2 linked regions of the Homo sapiens genome follow. The protein of the gene in region 1 interacts with the protein of each later gene in a pairwise test. Each region holds a gene or a part of one and is shown in the gene's direction. Other genes may lie near its edges.

Region 1 (3,500 bases):
CTAGGGATCATGCAGGGCATGGGGAGACTCCAGCCAAGAGCTGGAAAATTTGGGTCCTTGTTCCGGTCCTGGCATAAAATCCTCTAGAGAGTGCTAAAAATCTACAAATTGGGGACCTGGGGAATCAGAATCTTAGGGTTAGGGCTTAAGACAATTTTTGTTTTGTTTTGTTTTGTTTTGTTTTAAAGCATCATGGGTGAAAACCATTATTTTAGAGATTACATTTATATGGCTAGCTCATGAGTCTGTTTATTTCCTTCTGAGGTTCAAGCCAACACTTTCACTAATAATAGAGAGTAGAGATCTTTTTTTTTTTTTTTTTAGACGGGGTCTCGCTCTATCACCCAGGCTGGAGTGATACTTACTGCAACCTCTACTTCCCAGGCTCAAGCCATCCTCCTGCCTCAGCTTCTCAAGTAGTTGGGACTACAGGCGCACACTACCATGCCTGGCTAATTTTTGTATTTGTAGATACGGGGCTTTGCCATGTTGCCGAGGTTGGTCTTGAACTCCTGAGCTCAAGCAATCCACCCACCTCAGCCTCCCAAAGTGTTGAGATTACAGGCATCAGCCACCATGCCTGGCCTGAGATCTTTTTAAAATTATTTTTTATTTCTAAAGCAAAGAAACTTGACAGCAGAGTTGTATTGACTGAGTTGCACATTGAGCCTAGCCCTAGCCCTTTTAAGGGGCACTATTTGGAACGGCCTGGGCTCCCCAGATCTAAACTTCTCGCTCTTCACCATCCAGTTTTCAAGCCGGTGTGAAGCCCCTGATGCTAACCAGCAGTTACAGCAGGCCATGGAGGAGCGGGCACAGCTGGAAGCACACCTGGGGCAGGTGAGGCTTTGCAGGGGAGGGATGTAGAAGGAAGATGACCCCAGGTGGCCAGGAGTAGGTGACAACCAGTGACAGTCCTTCCTCATTTCTGTGGCCATTCTTGCAGGTAATGGAGTCGGTTAGACAACTACAAATGGAGAGAGATAAATATGCGGAGAATCTCAAAGGAGAGAGCGCCATGTGGCGGCAGAGGATGCAGCAGATGTCAGAGCAGGTGAGACCTGACCCTTCAGCTCCCCCTCAACCTTAGATAGGTCACTTGATCTTTCTGGGCATCTGCGAAATGGGAGGAGCACAGCCAGAGGTGGTCATGGGTCTGGGCTTTGTGGCGGTGGGGGCAGAGGGAGATGGTAGCCTGTCCAGCCACCAGCCCCTCTCCAGGGCCCTTTCTTGCTGTGCTTTGGGCAGGTGCACACATTGAGAGAGGAGAAGGAATGTAGCATGAGTCGGGTACAGGAGCTGGAGACGAGCTTGGCTGAACTGAGGAACCAGATGGGTAAGCTGGGGCTGGGGTGACCTGGGAGCAGGAATGGTGTCAGAGGGTTGTGGGGGTGGTTTAGAATGCCCCAGGGAGTTGGGTGGATGGAATGGCTTTGAGGCAGAGGGAAAGAGGTCTGTGCCAGGAGATGGCAAGTCTCGTCATCTCCATGAGCCTCAGTGCCCCATCAGCAAAGACGAAGGAGTGCCCGTTGTCAGCCACCCACAGTTGTCGCTATCGGAAAGTGGTTTGGAAGATTGGCTAACATCCGGGTGCGAGGAATCATCAGCAGGGAGGCCAAGTTTGGGGAGCTTGAGAGGAGGTATGGACCAAGAGGAGGGTTTTTTTGAGAATCCAGAGGCTTTTATTGTCTGCGTCCTTTCTCAGCTGAACCCCCGCCCCCAGAGCCCCCAGCAGGGCCCTCCGAGGTGGAGCAGCAGCTACAAGCGGAGGCTGAGCACCTGCGGAAGGAGCTGGAGGGTCTGGCAGGACAGCTTCAAGCCCAGGTGCAAGACAATGAGGGCTTGAGTCGCCTGAACCGGGAGCAGGAGGAGAGGCTGCTGGAGCTGGAGCGGGCGGCCGAGCTCTGGGGGGAGCAGGCGGAGGCGCGCAGGCAAATCCTGGAGACCATGCAGAACGACCGCACTACCATCAGCCGCGCACTCTCCCAGAACCGGGAGCTCAAGGAGCAGCTGGCTGAGCTGCAGAGCGGATTTGTAAAGCTGGTGCGCTGCCCCACCTGGAGAGCCCGCCCTCCTCCCTAGCCCTCCAGACCTTTGTTTTCCCACCTGTAAAGTGGGGCAGTGTAGCCCTCACTTGAAATGGTACTTCTGGAGGCATCTGTGAGCCAGAGCCCTGCTCCGATGGCTGTGGGGGAGAGGGGATGATTTTTCTAACCTGCCTCCACCCTTCCCGGTGCCATGGGAGGCAGACACCAAGGCAGCAAGTTCTGGGGTCTCCAGCTGCAGTGGGTGGCCGCTGATTGCTTCTCTCTGTCCAGACTAATGAGAACATGGAGATCACCAGCGCACTGCAGTCGGAGCAGCACGTCAAGAGGGAGCTGGGAAAGAAGCTGGGCGAGCTGCAGGAGAAGCTGAGCGAGCTGAAGGAAACGGTAACCCCGCCCCATCCAAGAAGGGCTGGGAGGCGGGCACCAGCCTCTGGGGAGGGGTGGTGTGAGGCCAGAGGCAGCTCCAGCCTGGGGCACAGGTGACCCCAGCACCCTCCAGGGCAGTCCTGTGACTGTTTCTTGCTCCCTGCCCTCTGACTTTTAGAGGTGGATAGCTTTGGGCTCCTCTCAGGTCTGGACATCATCGTCCCAGCTAGAGGCATGGATTTCTCCCAATCACAGGGGAAGAGACAGCGGCATAAGAGGCTCCTTAGATTCAAACTGGATTCTGGCCTTTGCTCCACTGGTCATCATTCAACTACTTTGCATCTCTAAGCCCCAGTTTCTTTAACTTAAAAAGGAAGTTAGCATCTTCCTTGCAGAGGTGCTGAGGATTCAATGAGATAATACGTGGAAAGCATTAGGCATGTAGCACACTTAGCAGATGGTGGTTGGCTCCCTCTGCGTTTCCACCAGTCTGTGGCCTACGGTTTAAATGGTGGGAAGAAGGATGTGAAATTTGAGGCTGGGGAAGGAGGCACGAGGCTCTAGACAAGGGAGGCAGTCACTTAGGCCTGGAGCAAGGGGCCAGAGGTCTGGGCAGGTGACAGAGCCCTCGCTACCCTATTTATGGGCCCTGAATCTGGAAGCAGGCCACCACCTGCCCTCACGCCCAGGGTCTTCCTACAGGTGGAGCTGAAGAGCCAAGAGGCTCAAAGTCTGCAGCAGCAGCGAGACCAGTACCTGGGACACCTGCAGCAGTATGTGGCCGCCTATCAGCAGCTGACCTCTGAGAAGGAGGTGCTGCATAATCAGCTACTGCTGCAGACCCAGCTCGTGGACCAGCTGCAGCAGCAGGAAGCTCAGGGCAAAGCGGTGGCCGAGATGGCCCGCCAAGAGTTGCAGGAAACCCAGGTGAGGGAGTTGGTGAGGGCAGGGCCCCGAGGGGGACAACCTGGCAACCTCCATGCCTTCTCACTCTCTTTTCTGGCCCCTTAGGAGCGCCTGGAAGCTGCCACCCAGCAGAATCAGCAGCTACGGGCCCAGTTGAGCCTCATGGCTCACCCTGGGGAA
Region 2 (2,730 bases), on another chromosome or scaffold:
GTCTGAATGGCGGCACGCTGAAGGAAACGTGCGAAGCACAGGCTGAAGAGGGGTTTCTAACCTGGGAAAGGTGCTCAAGGAGGACTTGGTTTCAAGGGCCTTGCCCTGCCCCGGTCTGTCCGGTTTGCAGTACTTGCACACATTTTGGAGATTGTATTTTCTAGACAATTCTCTATTTTACTGAAGCTATGCTGGGCAATTCTGGCAATCATTAAAGTGCATAGATTTCTATCTTAAACTAATTTTTGATAATGGAGTTTTTATTTTATGACAAATATTTAGGGATTTTTCTAGTGAGAAACAACTTTGTGTAAGGATGATCCACAGATATGAGTTGCTCCTATATAACTTTGTATTTAAAAATCATGTTATTATCTTTTGTTATTTTTTAAAAACCTTGGGTACTTAATAATGGTTTAGTTGCCAAACTGAAAACTATACTGAGAATCTGTGTTATTTTGAAACATCAAAAGGATTTTTCTATCCAGAACATTTTTTATCCTAAAAATTCTATATAGTTGTACCTTCTGTTTTTCAAATGAGAGCTCAATTCATTTAGATACTGAAATGAGTCAGTTAATGTAAAGTTGAGGATGAAGGCACATTATTTAAAATGTAAGAGAATAAGCATTATTTTTTCAGTATTATTCATAGATCTAAATGAATTTGATTTTATTGGTTGAAAATGAAGTGAAAAACAATTGCCTAGGGTGGTTTTAAGCACTTTTTTGTTAAAAACAAATCTGAGTTTTAATATATGTGTTGCTTTGTAGATGACACAATAACAATGGGCGCTGAGAAGCGTTTTGGGAGAGATTAAGGACTAAGAGTATGTAAGATGACTAGGACAAGAGTAGGTGGAGTGTGATGGTAAATGCAGGATGCCTTCGTCTTTACAAAAATGCAGTATTATCTATACTCAGACTGAGGTGCTGGGATGGCGAGCAGGGGACCCCACAGCACTGTCCCCAGGGAATTCAAGTCCTGTGACCGCCAGTGACTTACTCCGTTTCCTTGGGGCTTTTCCCACCTCAACCTGTATTGTTTCTTTTTCATAAATAAATTCAGCATTATAGTATCATTAAAAGAAGCCTTAAAGAGGCGTATTTTTCCTTTTGGTTGAAGGAAGGGAATAGTTAATAATAGTTTTCACCTCTTCTCCCAAAAAGTACAGTCCAAATTTGTGCACAGAGATTGCTGTGGTATTCAAGAGGTACTTGCATTTTAGCTCCTTAATAATTCCCTGGCCAGTGTTAGCTGTTTAGTGCCCCCTCACCCATCCCATTTAGGCACATCCCAATAGACAGAGCCAGGCTGAGTTACAGGGGGAGAGTGTCATCTCTGGCCCCGATTAAGATGGCCTTGTCACAGTGACCGCTGAGTAGGCATGGATGAGTGGGATATTTAGCTGAGGAACCCTTTCCCTTTTCCTTCTTTTTGGGGTCTCTTCTTACAGTGAACTTCCAAAATGTCAAATCTAGGGCTGTTTCCCAAATTACACTATTCTAGGCATCATTTTGATTCCCATGTCACTCCTTAACTCACTTCCTTGAGCACTACATGTATGTTGTCAGCCACGAGACAGGACTTCCTAAATAGTGTGTGCACCAGCCTAACTCTGCCTTACCCAGAAACCAACCACCTAAGAGGAAAACTCAGAAGATATTAATGAAAACTAATTGAAAGTACGCACACTTCTCATGTAGGAACAAAATTAAAATTTTACATTTTTATTTTACAAAATTAAAAAATTACATTTTGTAGGAACAAAATGTAAATTTTGTAAATACAAAATTCTTTTTAAAGTCCTGTTTAAAGAACAGTAGAACTAAGTGAAAATATTCAGAACGAGCTCCTTAGAAGAAAGGAATAAGAACTTTTTACTGGAACTATTTTCCATCTCTAGAAAAAGTGCTTCTTCCCCTCCCCCTCCCTCTCCATGGTACGTTTTTGTGAAAATGCTTTTCTGTCAGGTTTAAACAAACAGTTTGACATAGCTCGTTGACAAGAACATATTGTAAAACAAATCTAATTAAAGAGTAATATGTGGTCTATTTGTGTTCCTGTTGTAATAATTTGATAAGTAAACTTCTGAGGGCAAAATTACTGTTTAATATTACTCTTAAAATGTTGCATGTTTGGCGTCATTCCTAAGAGCCATGTAATTTTAAACTTTTAATTGCAGTTAGTGAATATGAAAGGATTTCTGAATAAAAATCTATCCACATTACTGAGCTTTGAAATAGTATCATTTTCAAGAGCAAACTAGAACATTAAGGGTTCATAGGTTTACTGCCTCTGAAATGAGTATATTAATGTCTGCCAAACTTACACAATGCTTCATGTATCTTAGTGTCTTTTAATAAGAATTATCAAAATGTGCACTTCCACAAAACGTAGAGTTATAAACCACTGTTTTCCACTGATCAATTTTGGTATCTCTGGTATCAGTTTTCCTGATTAGTGGGGTCTTTTGATGAAATAGTTTAGCTTAGTTGGTAGTTTTGAGCACAGAAAGTACTCATTTTATTTTTTATTTTTGAGACGGAGTCTTGCTCTATTGCCCAGGCTACAGTGCAGTGGCATGATCTCGGCTCACTGCAACCTCTGCCTCCTGGGTTCGAGTGATTCTCCTGCCTCAGCCTCCTGAGTAGCTGGGATTACAGGCATGCACCACTATGCCCGGCTAATTTTTGTATTTTTAGTGGAGACGGGGTTTCACCATGTTGG

What was found. The genes of interacting proteins can lie anywhere in the genome.
Region 2: the proteins of GOLGA2 (region 1) and PTPN21 interact in binary tests that used the Homo sapiens proteins (3 or more experiments, as listed by UniProt).

Annotation. Positions count from the first base shown.
Region 1 is NC_000009.12:128,259,008-128,262,507, reverse strand, and holds part of GOLGA2 (golgin subfamily A member 2), read left to right. Parts: intron 1-750; coding exon 751-840; intron 841-946; coding exon 947-1,054; intron 1,055-1,248; coding exon 1,249-1,336; intron 1,337-1,705; coding exon 1,706-2,043; intron 2,044-2,318; coding exon 2,319-2,432; intron 2,433-3,116; coding exon 3,117-3,341; intron 3,342-3,425; coding exon 3,426-3,500. UniProt on the Homo sapiens protein: Peripheral membrane component of the cis-Golgi stack that acts as a membrane skeleton that maintains the structure of the Golgi apparatus, and as a vesicle thether that facilitates vesicle fusion to the Golgi membrane.
Region 2 is NC_000014.9:88,465,278-88,468,007, reverse strand, and holds the end of PTPN21 (tyrosine-protein phosphatase non-receptor type 21), read left to right. Parts: 3' UTR 1-2,230; downstream 2,231-2,730.